Homo sapiens: one gene and its partners. The protein of the gene in region 3 purifies or fractionates together with the protein of the main gene of each other region. This does not show direct contact. Each region holds a gene or a part of one and is shown on either strand. Other genes may lie near its edges.

Region 1 (3,568 bases), about 31 Mb from region 3:
AAAATTTCCAGGTCTACACACAGCATTAAACTGATACATCTTTTCTATGCTGGGCTTATGAAGGAAACGATGGCAAGACCTGTATTCAAGGTCTCTATGTTTTAAATCATCAAAAGGATCTAAGACAAATACTCCATGTGTGGTACCTATCGTCAAACTAGAAGGATGAGCTAAAGCAGTAAAGCCAGGTTTGTCAAACCTAATAAACTCAAATTCTCCAATACTATAAAGTTCAATATCATCTGCACAGGTAACCAGAATTCCAGGATTCATATTTAAGGGGAAATCAATGTACATGGCTAGTTTTAATTCTAGCATCTGATAAATGGGGTTACCAAGAGGTAAAGCAGTGAAAATTTTTCCCAGAGCACTTGCATTTGGAAGTCGTTGACTGTAGCCACCTATAAAATTAAAACGAAATAACCATTTAAAAATGCAGTATTATTTATAAAATTTTCAAAACCCCAGGGTTTTATAACCCATAAGTTACAAATCAAAATATATTTAACGATATTTAATATATGCCACTTGTTACTGCAAATCAGGAAAGAATAATGAAATCCAAATTAAAAATTCGAAGAGAAATTTTCTTGTTGCCATTTGATATAAGACAATTTTAAAAACTGTAGGTCAGGAAAAAATTTAAATATACTGTAGAATCTGTGAAATGTTTTGAATTACATGTATAACAAATAAGAAGGACCACGGCCCAAAACATGATGTTGCATCTACATTTGTTTTTTTTTTTTTGAGATGAAGTCTTACTGTCACCCAGGCTGGAGTGCAGTGACGTGCGATCTTGGCTCACCACAACCTCCGTGTCCCAGGTTCAAGCGATTCTCCTGCCTCAGCCTCCCGAGTAGCTGGGATTACAGGCACCTGCCACCACGCCTGGCTAATTTTTGTATTTTTAGTAGAGACGAAGTTTCACCATGTTGGCCAGGCTGGTCTCAAACTCCTGACCTCAGGTGATTCACCCAACTCGGCCTCCCAAAGTGCTGGGATTACAGGCGTGAGCCACCACACCCAGCCTGTATCTACATTTTAAACAACAAATTTCAACCATGTTTAGACTTCTAATTAAGAATCTACTTCACAGAAGGCCAGGCGCGGTGGCTCAAGCCTGTAATACCAACACTTTGGGAGGCCGAGGCAGGCAGATCACGAGGTCAGGAGATCCAGACCATCCTGGCTAACACGGTGAAACCCCATCTCTACTAAAAATACAAAAAATTAGCTGGGCGTGGTGGCGGGCGCCTGTGGTCCCAGCTACTCTGGAGGCTGAGGCAGGAAAATGGCGTGAACCCGGGAGGCGAAGCTTGCAGCAGTGAGCGGAGATCGTGCCACTGCACTCCAGCCTGGGCGACAGAGCCAGACTCCATCTCAAAAAAAAAAAAAAATCTACTTCACAGAAAATAAAAGTTATAGAAAACTAATATACTAATGCTAAAATACTTGCTTCTTTACAACATTTCGCTCAATTATGGACAGCATATACATAGGTTGTCCCATAAGATCATAATGGAACTGAAAAATTCCTATCACCTAGTGATGTTGGAGCCATTGTAAAGTCCTAGCACGATGCACCACTCAAGTGGTGATGCTGGTATAAACAAACCTGCTGTGCTGCCAGTTTACTAAACTACAGAACATACAATTATGTATATAGTATATAATAATTGGTAATAAATGACTATTTTACTGGTTTATGTATTTACTATACTATACTTTTCATTGTTATTTTAGAATAAATTCATATGATACATACAAAAAAAAGTTAAGCATAAAATGGCCTCAGGCAGGTCCTTCAGGAGGTCTTTCAGAAGGCAGCATTGTTATCATAGGAGATGACAGCTCCTGAACTTTAGTAGGACTATAGAGGTAGTGATACTGATGATCCTGACCCAGTGTAGGCCTAAGCTAATATGTTTGTGTCTTCATTTCTAACCAAAATATTTAAAAAGTAAAAATAAAAACAACAAAATAAACCCTAACAATATAAAGAAAATATTTTTGTACAGCTGTACAGTGTTTGTGTTTTAAGCTGAATGTTATTACAAGAGAGTCAAAAAAATTAAGAAGTTTATAAAGTAAAAATGTTATAGTAAGCTAAGGTTAATTTATTACTGAAGATCAATAATACCTGTAAAGCACTTGGCAGCACACAGTACATTGTTCAACAAAAGAGAGCTAATAAGTTTCTGTTTTTTTCTTTTTTCAAAGAGCAGCCAATAGTCAAGTTTAGCACTAAGAATTATCTATTTCCAAAAAATAAAAATAAAAAAATTATCTAACTATGCATTTCCTGGTATCTAATTTAATTTTTACTAAACTGATAATAATTATTTTCTTAAATAAAATTGTAAATTAGATTGTTTTACACATTTTTAGGCTTCAAACCAGAACTTGGATGCTTTACTTTGACATCATCTTTACAAAGAATCATTGTTTTGTATGTAAATCATAAGAATGAAAAAGTGCCTTGGAAGCCATGTAGATGAATAATTCTAAAATACCTGTCCCTGGACTGGTGTCAGTTCATGACAGTTTTCATTAGCCCCTTAACATACATAGAAAAACAACAAAGGTTTTCATGTAACCAAAATTTTCACACAACTAAATGTATTCAATTTAAAAAGCTATTCTTCATTCTGAGACCATGTCCTTCCTACTTTTCTGTTTTAAAATGTCTTATTTTGTGTGTGTGATTTCTCTTTTATATATTTACTTGTCCACTCTGTATCTTGTCACATTTTCCTTTTATTTTTAAGCATTGTGGCCTCTGGCTATCAATAATCACACAAAAATGCAAGATAAAAAGTACTGGCAAAAGTCTAGTAATGACAGTGTTAAACCACCCTTCCCTCAAAGCAAGAATCCCCATTAAGGGAGAAAGAGTGTTAGGAAAAATAGCTAATGCATGCTGGCTTAATACCTAGGTGATGGGTTGACAGGTGCAGCAACCAACCATGGCACACGTTTACCTATGTAACAAACCTGCACATGGACCCTGGAACTTAAAATACAAATTAAAATTAAAAGAAAAATCCCCATTAAAGTATTCCCGAGAACTATTCATATTTGAATGAGTTGTCTTAGGAAAATAATTTTCTATATACATACCCAAAACAAAACAATATTCATAAAAGACTGACGATATACGTGATCTACAATTTTACGAGTAAAATTTGTGAAAATCACTATACTACTTACAACCTAAAAAAAGTCATGAAAATCATAAAATATTTGTTTTCAAAGCAGAATAACTTCAAAGATTCTTTTAAAAAAGAAGGAAAGTGTTTGCAAGAAAGAAAAAAGTCTCTAAAGTATTAAAGGTGGAAGACTAAAAAGAAAATGTAAATTAGTAAAGTATAACATTACCAGAGTGAATTAATAAGATGGTAAAAGAATTCCATTTATCTCCATATAGCTTTTCCAAACATTGAAGGGCACAAAGTGTTGATCCTCCATTTCCTTAAAAACAAAGTTAAAAAAGCACAATTTATTTAATAGAAACCTACTAAAACTTTGTCATGACAGTAAATTTAGGTGTTATATAACCTTAAGG
Region 2 (3,568 bases), on a different chromosome or scaffold from region 3:
TCCCACCTTGGCCTCCCAGTGTGCTGGGATTATAGGGCACGAGCCACCGTGCCTGGCCTCTCCTTTCTTTTTAAGGCAAGCTCATGCCCACAGTGCAGTGCCAGAATGGAGGGGGCTCCATCACCCTGAGCACAGAGGGCTTCATGGCGAGTGGATGGGCCAGGGCCGTGTGAGAAGAAACCTGTCTGCCAAGGGTGACAGGGAAGTCTTCTGCGGGAGGCTGGACCACCTGAATATCCTCAACCCCTCAGGGTCAGACGGAACCTTTACCCCCGACTCCCACCCCACGACAGTGCTGATGATGAGCTGGGGCCCCCTGCACCCACCCAGCTGGTGCGGGCAGCCTTCTCAATTTTCCATTCTCGTGTCTGTCACCCTTGCCCCAGTGCGAGTCCGACTGAAAGACTGAATGTACAAGTTTGAGTTGGGGCCTGGGTTGCCAGGCCTCCAGGGCCCTGAGTATGGTCCAGGAGGGTGGTGACTGGCTGTGAGGAATGGCCCAGGGCCGAGTGTGGTCCAGGAGGGTGGTGACTGGCTGTGAGGAATGGGAGGAGGGTGGTGACTGGCTGTGAGGAATGGCCCAGGGCCGAGTATGGTCCAGGAGGGTGGTGACTGGCTGTGAGGAATGGGAGGAGGGTGGTGACTGGCTGTGAGGAATGGGGCCTACTGTTGTCAGAAACTACAGTTTTTCTAAGAAAAGCTGAAAATCCAGATTTGTACGTAAGTCTCCTGATTCTAAAAGGCTGACAGTTATTAATGTTCTGGCAAAAACATTTTCAAGGAAAATATGAGTGGGTAAAAGAAAGAGCCAAAATGGGCAGGGATCTGGGACTGTGGACTGCCTGCCCTAACAACCCCAGGGCCACAGGAGTCCACAGGCACAGCCACCCCACCCTCTGCCCTCACTCCCACATCAAATCACCTTCAAGTCATGTGCATTAGAACCTCTGGGGGTCCTAGCTCTTCACAGGACACTTTCTGGATTTTTCTTTTTAAACCTAAAATACAGTAGTCTGTCTCCATTCCCACTCTTTGGGACTTTTTCACAATCTTAGGATGAAGGGATAAATTGGGGAAGTGCTCCTCTCATGTTAAAACGTTCCAATCTGCCAGGCACGGTGGCTCATGCCTGCAGTCCTGGCACTTTGGGAGGCCAAGGCGGGTGGATCAGGAGGTCAGGAATTCAATACCAGCCTGGCCAACATAGTGAAACCCCATCTCTACTAAAAATACAAAAATTAGCTGGGCATGGTGGTGTGCGCGTTAGTCCCAGCTACTCGGGAGGCTGGGGCAAGAGAATCGCTTGAACCCGGGAGGCAGAGGTTGCAGTGAGCTGAGATTGCGCCATTGCACTCCAGCCTGGGTGACAGAGTGAGACTCCGTCTCAAAAAAAAAAAAAGAAAAAAAAAGTTCCAATCCCACACCTATTATGAAGATAGCACCACATGAAACTGCCTGAGGGGCCTCCAATAAACGGGGTAGCAGGGAACTCGGAGAAACCAAAGTAATCCATTGAGCGGTTTTCTTAAGTGTCTTTAATACTCCACTCAGGGCAGCCCCTCCCTCTACTGAGAGGCTCTTGGCTCTGGCCCCAAGAGCAGCTGGAAGGCCCTGGCCTGACTTCACCACTTGATGTCCAGGCTGTGTGTGCCACGCTCCTGGCTCTGGTACGTGGTATGCAGCACCTCTCGGGCCTTGGGGGAGTTGATCCCCTCCAGCCACTCCTGGTACAGCTCCTGCACGTGTGCACTGGACTCCGGACGCCGCACAGGGATGTCAGCGTAAATGCCTTCCATCTGCCGCAGCAGGGCCTTATCCGCATGTCCGTCTGGAGTCTGGGCTTGGCCTCTGCCATTTAAGCATCCTGAAAGATAAACACAGGTAAGTTTATCCTGGGCTCAGGCGATCTTTCTGCCTTAGCTTCCTGAGCAGCTAGAACTACAGACACACACCACCTTGCCCGGCTGATTTTTAAATTTTTTGTAGAGATTGGGCGGGAGGGGCGGGTGTTGCTATGTTGCTCAGGCTGGTCTTGAACTCCTGGCTTCAAGCGGCAATCCTACTTCGAGCTGGGACCACTGGCGTGAGCCACCGCACCCAGCCGGGATAGTCTTAAGGAAGTTTTGCCTCACAGGGAAGAGTTGGAAGCAGGAGAGGAATAAAGGGGACGTGGAATGTTGTGTGGCCTAAGGCTAGGGCTGGCTGAACAGGCCAGGGTCTTCCTCAAGGCTGTCAGGGACACTGATCCCAGACTCACAGCCCCGTGTGCCTCTCATTCTTCTTTTTTTTTTTTTTCGAGACAGAGTCTCTCTCCATTGGTCAGGCTGGAGTGCAGTGGCCTAATCTCGGCTCACTGCAACCTCCATCTCCTGGGCTCAAGCGATTCTCCCACCTCAGTCTCCCAAGTACCTGGGGTTACAGGTGTGTGCCACCACGCCCGGCTAATTTTTGTATTTTTAGTAGAGACAGGGTTTTACCATGTTGGCCAGGCTGGTCTCAAACTCCTGACCTCAGGTAATCCGACCACCTCGGCCTCCCAAAGTGCTGGGATTACAGGCGTGAGCCACCGTGCCTGGACCCGTGTGCCTCTCATTCTTACCCATTTACATCACCCATAAAATGGTTTTACCTAAAACCTAAGTTGCCAACCTTTTAGAACTGGGTGGCTTCATATGCAAATCCCGATTTCCAACTTCTCTTGGAATTTGGCAAAACCAGGATAGCACAGGAATTGTGAACAAGCAGTTAAACCACTCCTGCCTGCACCACACGTGTTAGTGTGCTGGGCCCTGCCTGGAGGCTGCACCAGAGGCAGCTAAGCTGTGAGCCCAGCCATGAGCCCACACACCCAACACTGGCCTGAGTAAAAATGTGTCTCCTATCTATTAATGCTACTTACTCTCCAACGTGTTAGATGATGTCACTCTTAGTAGTGTAAGAGTTCATTTAAAACAATCTGGAGCAAATTTCCCTGGTTAAACCTCACTCCCCATGGGTTCCAGGGTGGCACCCCAGCTGGTCTCCAACCTCCACTTTCCCAGGGGGCTGGGCTTGCACCTTCTCCTTCCTCAGGCCCCAGCTCCACCCGCTTGCACACAGAGGCCCTCCCAGAGGCCCTGCTTCACGGCCCACCTCCCGGCTGCTCCTCAGCCCAGCTGTGGGACTGACCCTTCCGTGCCCCTGGAATGCTCAGTGAGGCCTCCAAGGCCACAGGCTCCCCTCTCTGCCCTCACCCTCCTCTTGTCAGTGCTGGCTGAGGCCTCCCCTCCTCTACGAGATCCTTTGTGTTGAAGGACACACCCTTGTCTGTGCCCTGCCCAAGGGCCCCTCCCATCCTGTGGCTTCACACCTTGTCCCACTTGTCTAACATCAGTGGAGCCGCTCCTCCAACTGACCTGCACCCGGCATTTCCACTCGAGTCCCTCGTGGTGCCCCCCCCGACTCACAATGGCACAAAGGTCCTCAGTTCCCCACCAGGGGCGCAGATGGACCACCATGGGTCAGGGGCAGAGGGTCCCCTTCTTCCCTGACACACCCTCAGCAAGTCCTTCCCGGAGACCCCCACCGT
Region 3 (4,293 bases):
TTTATTTTATCAATTTATAAACAAATAGTGTTCATAAGGCACACATATTTCACTCAACCATATTCAGTTCCAAACATGCATTCCTGAATATCCCAATCTTAAAACTAACTCACATTGTCAGCTTGTGGAGGCAGAATACATGCATACATATACACATACATACATGAATATACATATAATATACACACACATATGCATACATACACATATACACATGTATACATGTATGTGTATATACATATCTGTACTACATAGGTGTATATATATGTATATGTATTTAGCATGTATGCACGTGTATATGTATACACATATATACATATGTATGTATAATACATATTCACACATGTATGCATGTATATACACATGTATACATTAGTATATGTATATACACATGTATGTGTATTATACATGTATATATGTACATACATATCAGTCTACTGATTTGAATATTAATGTCATCAAGAAATAACCTCAATATATGTATGTATTATAACCTTACAACTATATAAAACATACATACATATATATGTATATATGTATACACATACACATGCATGAGAATATATGTATGTATATATAATATCCTCACAGTAATTCTGCCAGGGATTTTATGGGGGAGGGAGTTGGTACTCCAAATGGCTAGGTGGTAGAGCCAGAGTTTTATACTTGGTTTATCTAGCTCTGAAGGCAATGCTCCTTGTTCTTTGCACTGAAACATTGTGCAGATACGAGAAGCCTGTAGTTTACGTATTTCATTAGCCTTTTATTATTTTAAAAAATAAAACCTGAAAAAAAAGACCTAGTCCTGGATACTTTGGTGATCTTGTTGTGTCTGGATTGACGAACACGTGTCAGGCTTAATTAGGGATGCACGCGGAACCCGGGAAAATCCCTGCTCAGGGGGGCTGGAAGACCTGGAGGTTGATCCTTGAACAGGGTACTTTTAGCTTCTCCGATAAGGAGATTGGGTTATTTTATCTTTAAACTCCCTTCCAGCTCTACCCTCCTTTGATTTTAAGTTATAAACCTTGAGTGAGGTGCCAGACTCTAGGCTTCGTTGGACGTCTACAGGACGGTCAAGGATTACCAACTCAAAGTAAAGAAGGAAATTTGAGTACTTGCCCCCTTGGAGGTTGTGTAGGTTGGCTATACAGATTCTACAACTTCCCAGACGAGTGGCCCTGAGACTTGGGGCTGAACGCGCGAGCACGGAAAGAAATCCCACCGTAGGACGGAACCCAGTCTCTTCAGCTCCATCCTAAACTTCGCAAGTTTTCTCTGAGTCTACGCGCTTCCTTAGGACTACAACTCCCAGCATGCCACGCCAGCGGTCAAAGCTTATTGGTGGTCCTGCCAGGTCGCTTGCGTTGTGGCAGTCATGGTAGCCAATGGAAATAAAGAATTATCCCAAGAAACCAATCCTGGAGTAGTAGGGCGGATCCTTCCTGGGTTCCGGCTCCGGCTCCAGCTCCTTCCCTCGCCTACAGAGGCGGCGCTGTCCCTGATCGAGCGGCGGGAGCGAGGTGGGTCCGGGTTGGGCCCGAGGTCGCGGGGGGAGGCGGACACGACTTCGCGGGAAACTCTGTACACGGCCACTTCCCTCTCACCGAGGATCTGGATGCTGCTGCTTTGCTCCCTGGACCGAGTGGGAAGCCAAGGGGCCTTGTGGTCCCTCCGCCGCGACCCTCGCCCTGGCCCCCGGCCCACGCAGCCAGGTGGCTGTCCCCAACCCATTCCCCGGCCCTTCTGTTGGGTTTGAGTATACAGCCTTCCTGCCGCTGACCATACGTTTAGGATCAGCCCCTCCTCCTCTCCCACCTCTCTGGCCCCAAGCCCGCCGGCAATCTCTGAAACCAGCTCTTGTACCCTTGGACCTCCGCCATTGGCTTCTCCCCGCCCCGCAACACACAACTCAGCTCTTGGGCCCTGGCCTGTGACACTTCTGGCAGCCTTTGCTTCCTCTTCCCTGACCGTCTCCTGCGACCCTCTGACTTCCTTGGTCCTCCTGTATCTCTGACCCGTTATCTAGCTTCCCTGTACAATTACCCTGTTAGCACCTTGCTCTTGGTCTTTCATAGCTCCTCTCTCCTCTTCCTCCCTGCAGCCCTTGACTTGGCCCCAAAGACCTGTAACTTCGGACCTCCATACCGCACTATGGCTTGGCCCCTTGCCTTTAACCTAGGCGCTTCACCTTCATCATCTGTGATCACTAGCCCCATCTTCTTGGCTCTTAACTTCTTAGACCTGGCCCCTCCTCCACTTCTCAGCCCCTTCCACCGTTGCTTCTCTCTGTGCAGCTGAGCCACCAGGAAGACAAAGCCCAATAGACCCCTTTTCCCCCCAGATCTCTGCAGTGTGATATGAAAGTGCCTCTGTACTTCAGCTGCACTGTCTTCTCAGTAGGTAGTTGCCTCTTTATCTCTGCAAGTCCCAGTCTTACCCATCCTGCAAACCTTAGGTCAAATACCTACTCCTCCTTGAAACTTCTCAGCCCTGATTTCATCAGGGAGATACATCTGTATCATGTGAACTTCAGTGGTACTGTTTTTATTTCCTTCCTTCCCGTCTTCTCTCCTTTTTTCCTTCAGTAATAGTATAATGGTTAAAAGCACTGACTTTGAAGTGATGGGCATAGGCCCCAGTTCTGCCACTTACTTGCTGTGTGCCCTTGGGCAAGATACTTAATTTCTCTGAGCCTCAGCTTTCTCATCTCTAAAATAAGGATGATGTGAAGTGAAATTAGATGATTCATATATGGTCCTTAGTCCACAGCTTAGCACTTGATTCGAGCTTTAAAAAAATGTTAATAATGTGCCAGGTGCTGTGTTAGACACTGAGGAGTGGGTACAAAGGTGACTAAGGCACAGTTCCTGCCCCTGTCCCCTGAACTTAACCTTCTGCATTGTATGACAATTTCTGGAGTTCACGGTCTGTTTCAGTACACTGTATCACAAACTGAGTGGTAATCATAATCCTAAATCCTTTTGCTCTTACATTGACCTAGCATCCAGCCCCGGGTAGAGCTGGAACTTGGTAAATTATAGGTTCTCAGAATAGCAGTTTCGGAAGTGAGTGGAGGCTGAATAGCTCATTGCGTAGAGATACTGTAGCTGTAGGTCAGATGGGAGCAGGGCAGGGGGTGGGGGATGGGATGGTGGCGTGAATTAAGATCACATCCTGTCACTTATACATTCAAAAGACATTTGAGCACCCAGCTTTATGCTGCAGAAGGAGATTACTAATATGACCCAGTCCCTTTCCTCAAGTTGCTTATAAACTACTAATAGAAACAGACATGTTCTACTAGTAGTTGCAAACCACTATAAGCCAAGCACAAGATTCTGTGACTGCATAAAGGAGAAAGTAGGCAGGAATCAGGAGATTGCTGAGGAAAAGTGGGTGAGACAGTTCATGGTTACTTGTGTCCCATGAAGACAGAGCTGGTGTTTTATTCAACTCATTCAACAAATACTTATGAAGGATCTACTGTATATGGCTGCCACTACTCTAGGAGTTTTGGTTACATTGGTAAATTAAAAAAAAAACAAAAAAACAACAAAGACACCAGCTCTCATGGAACTTATGTTTTAGGGAAGCAGACAATAAATAATAGACATAAAGAGAATGTCAGAAGGTAAGATGTGCTATGGGGCAGGAGGACTGGGAGTGTGGGAGTGATTTTAATTTTTTAAAGGATGGTCAGGAAACAGTGTCTAAGTATCAAGGAATAGTTTCTCATGTTTACTTGCATTTTTGGAAGTAAAGCAAACCAATTATTTTTCATATTCTTATCTAAATTCTTCAAGGAACACTAACAGGGATTGGCAAACCACAGCTCACCTCCTGTTGCTTTAAATAAAGTTTTATTAGAGCACAGCCACACATTCCTTTATGTCTTGTCTATGGCTGCTTTCATGATTCATGATACAGTGGCAGAATTGAATAGTTACAGCAGATATCCCATGGCCATAAATATTTACTAAATATTATCTGGCCCTTTACAGAAAAAGCTTGTCAACCTCTGGTTCTTAAAGAGTTGAGGTTCTGTCTGTATTTCACATTTTAGAAGGTTATATACAGTTTTATGCTATTTTTAAGTTAAAAGTTTTTTCTTAATGAGATCATTTAAAAGATCTTTTTCTTGTATTCTTCACAGGGCCTGGACGTAGTGTCTTCAACAGTTGTAACAGCAGCTGCCATTTGCTGAATGACAGCATGTGTCACACACTCTGCTGAGTATTACAGGCATTTTTTTCTAATACAAAGTCTTGTAGTGTGGGTAGGTATCACAAT
Region 4 (3,568 bases), 7.8 Mb from region 3:
TTTCCAACTTTTTTTTTTTTTTAAATGGAGTCATGCGCTGTCACCCAGGCTGGAGTGCAGTGGCATGATCTGGGCTCACTGCAACCTCCACCTCCTGGGTTCATGCAGTTCTCCTGCCTCAGCTTCCCGAGTAGCTGGGATTACAGGCGTGCACCACCATACCCAGCTAATTTTTGTATTTTTGGTAGAGATGGGGTTTCACCATGTTGGCCAGGCTGGTCACGAACTCCTGACCTCAAGTGATCCGCCTGCCTCAGCCTCCTAAAGTGTTGGGATTACAGGCGTGAGCCACCACGCCTGGCCTGCTTTCCAACTTTTATGCTAAATTCCCATCTACTATTTTACTTTAGCTTAAAGAATTTCCTTTAGTGGCCGGGCGTGGTGGCTCACCCCTGTAATCCCAGCACTTTGGAAGGCTGAGGCGGGTGGATCACCTGGGGTCAGGAGTTCCAGACCAGCCTGGCCAACATGGTGAAACCCCGTCTCTACTAATAATACAAAAAATTAGCCAGGAGTGGTAGTGCATGCCTGTAATCCTAGCTACTCAGGAGGCTGAGGCAGGAGAATCACTTGAACCCGGGAGGTGGAGGTTGCAGTGACCTGAGATTGTGCCATTGCACTCCAGCCTGGGCAGCAAGAGTAAAACTCTGTCTCCAAAAATAAAAAAAGAATTTCCTGTAGCATTTCTACAGTGTTTTCATTTGTCTGAAAATGTCTTTATTTTGCTCTTAATCTTGAAGGATATTTTTACTGAATATAGAATTTTAAGTAGATTTTTCCCCAGCACTTTAAAGATATTACATTGGCTTCTGGGGTTTTATTGTTTCTTTTCTTTTTTTTTTTTAAGACAGGGTCTCACTGTCCCCCAGACTGGTGTGCAGTGGCTTGATCACAGCTCACTGTAGCCTCACCCTCCCGGCTTAAGCAGTCTTACCACCTCGGCCTCCCGAGTAGCTGGGACTCCAGATGCATACCATCATACCCAGCTAATCTTTTAATTGTTTTTAGAGATGGGGGTCTCACTATGCTGCCAGGGGGTGGCCTCGAACTCCTGGGCTAAGCAGTCCTCTGTCCTCTACCTCCCGACATGTTCAAATTGCAAGTGTGAATCACCACACCCAACCTTAGTGCTTTTAAGATTTTCTTTTTGGTTTTCACCAGTGTAACTATGACATGCCTACTCGCGTTTTTCTTTATATCTTATTTGTGATTCACAGAGCTTGAATTCATGTGGTTTGATGTTTTTCTTCAGTTTTAGGAAATTGTCCTAAAAAATTGTAGGTATTTTTTGTTTTTGTTTTTTTTCGAGACAGTGTCTCAGTCTGTCACCTAGGTTGGTGTGCAGTGGTGCGATCATAGCTCACTGTAACCTGGAACTCTTTCCTGGGCTCAGGTGATCCTCCAGCCTCAGCCTCCCACATAGCCTGTACTACAGGCATCCACCACCATGCCCAGCTAATTTTTCTAATTTCTTTGTAGAGATGAGGGTCTCACTATGTCACCCAGGCTGGTCTCGAACTCCTGGGCTCAAACTCCTGCCTTGGCTTCCCAGAGTTCTGGGATTATAGGCGTGAGCCACCTTGCCTGGTATTTTCTTTCAAATACTGCTTCTTTTGCATTGTCTATTTTCTCTTATCCTAGAACTGAATAAGAGATCCCACGTGGCACATTATTCTAGATTCTTATTCTAGAACTGAATAGGAATCCCACATGGCACATTATTTCAATTTTCCATCCTTTTATCTCTGTGCATCAGTGTACCTTCTAGCTTGTCTTCTTCACTAATTTGATATTCATCGATTGAATTCTTAACTTCCTCACTGTGTTTTCCAATTCTAGATTTTCCATTTAACTTTTTTTTTTTTTTTTGATGGATGCCAGGTCACTACAGAACTTCTCCATCTTTCCTCTGTTTTCTCAAACATAACCAAGTCCTTGCCTGACAAGAACAATATCTGAGTCACCTGTGGGTTTGTTTCTATTGCCATTTTTTTCCAGTCAGTTTTGGGATTTTAAAAATTCCTCTTAGTCCATAAATTATTACTGGATTCTGGAAATTTTGGATGAACATTATTAGCATCCGGATGTACTTCCTTCAAAGCAGACTAAGGTTGCCATTAGGCACGTGGATAGTAGTAGCAGATGACATTGATCCTGTTGAGGGTTGATTATAGGTCTTGTTAAGACTGGTCTATTTCAGTTTGTCCTTTCTTCTTGGAAGTGGTCTCTTTTCCTCCTGGGGCATAGCCATTACTCCTAGGGCAAGGCCCTCCTTGAGTCTCAACCCGAAATCCAGGTCTTTACCAAAACCCCTCTATCTTGCTGGTCTTAAATTTCAACTCTCAACTCAGCATAGCTGCTATAATCTTATTAGCTCTTTGACGTTTAACTGCTGTGTTCTGTTAAGTTTTTGAAGTCTCACTCTGTAAATGTGCAGTTTAGGAGTCCGCCAATGACTTGGAGGAGGGGAGATTTCTATGCATATTATTTTTCTGTAGTTCCCTCCTCTCCCAGATTGTGCCTCTTGAGTTCCAGCTACTTTAGAATCCAGTACTTCTAACTGTCTCCTGCTGTTTTCTGCTTGGGTTTCCACTATTTTGTCATGGAAAGTCCCCTTACCAGTAAAGTCTGTTAAATTTTGTAATTAATTCCAGTGAAAGGATTTAGTATGCTAAAGGCTACTCTGTTATGCCTGGATTTATCCGTTTTTTGTTTTGTTTTGGTTTGGTTTTTTTTTGGAGACAGAGTCTCGCTCTGTCGCCCAGGCTGGAGTGCAGTGGCACTGTCTCAGCTCACTGCAAGCTCCGCCTCCTGGGTTCACGCCCTTCTCCTGCCTCAGCCTCCGAAGTAGCTGGGACTACAGGTGCCCACTACCACGCCTGGCTAATTTTTTGTATTTTTAGTAGAGACAGGGTTTCACCGTGTTAGCCAGGATGATCTCGATCTCCTGACCTTGTGATCCACCCGCCTCGGCCTCCTAAAGTGCTGGGATTACAGGCGTGAGCCACCGCGCCCGGCCCCCATATTATTTTTACTTCATGCTAGTCTGTTAAAATCTGGAGCTCAGTTGGTTTCCAAACTGCATAGGATCTGATTAGGCAGAAATGACTTTGGCAGGAAGGAAAGCAGTATGAGGACAAGTAAAGTGAGGAGGTTAAGGTGCAGCTGATTCTTTGCCTTGACATCTGTCTCCCTTTCCCTCTGGCCCAAAGAGGAGGATAGTGTTTTCTCCTGTGGTTGTTGTAGATCTCCCTTTGGCTGCAGCTGTCCTTTCCTGACCCTGAAACCACCTCCATGACTACATTCCAGCTTCAGGGACAATAGCCTCCTTCCTTGAACAGTCATTCCTAGAGCTCTCTTGGGCCTGCCCTTTCTTGCCTTTGGTGTGGCACATGCCAGCCACCTAGCTCTAATAGGGAATTATTGTTGTTAAATCAGTATTCTGTACCCCTCATTCCCAGCCTAGTTTTGAAATGTACTTGTGGTTGGAGTGCTAGGTTCACACTGGCCCCTAGCATTTGTGGGGTCCTTGCTAAGAGTATGAATGGAAGCCCACATACTCTGTGTC

Evidence for each region.
Region 1: the proteins of ZNF691 (region 3) and FPGT purify together in Homo sapiens (affinity purification with mass spectrometry; one large-scale study listed by BioGRID and IntAct). This does not show direct contact.
Region 2: the proteins of ZNF691 (region 3) and NARF purify together in Homo sapiens (affinity purification with mass spectrometry; one large-scale study listed by BioGRID and IntAct). This does not show direct contact.
Region 4: the proteins of ZNF691 (region 3) and ZMYM1 purify together in Homo sapiens (affinity purification with mass spectrometry; one large-scale study listed by BioGRID and IntAct). This does not show direct contact.

Annotation. Positions count from the first base shown.
Region 1 is NC_000001.11:74,201,224-74,204,791, reverse strand, and holds part of FPGT (fucose-1-phosphate guanylyltransferase), read right to left. Parts: intron 3,475-3,568; coding exon 3,382-3,474; intron 402-3,381; coding exon 1-401. Other genes in the region: FPGT-TNNI3K fusion protein, read right to left, coding at 3,382-3,474. UniProt on the Homo sapiens protein: Catalyzes the formation of GDP-L-fucose from GTP and L-fucose-1-phosphate. Functions as a salvage pathway to reutilize L-fucose arising from the turnover of glycoproteins and glycolipids.
Region 2 is NC_000017.11:82,486,212-82,489,779, reverse strand, and holds part of NARF (nuclear prelamin A recognition factor), read right to left. Parts: intron 1,865-3,568; coding exon 1,623-1,864; 3' UTR 1-1,622.
Region 3 is NC_000001.11:42,845,135-42,849,427, forward strand, and holds the start of ZNF691 (zinc finger protein 691), read left to right. Parts: upstream 1-1,478; 5' UTR 1,479-1,523; exon of another isoform or gene 1,524-4,156; 5' UTR 4,157-4,207; coding exon of another isoform or gene 4,208-4,279; exon of another isoform or gene 4,280-4,293. UniProt on the Homo sapiens protein: May be involved in transcriptional regulation.
Region 4 is NC_000001.11:35,082,328-35,085,895, forward strand, and holds part of ZMYM1 (zinc finger MYM-type protein 1), read left to right. Parts: intron 1-3,568.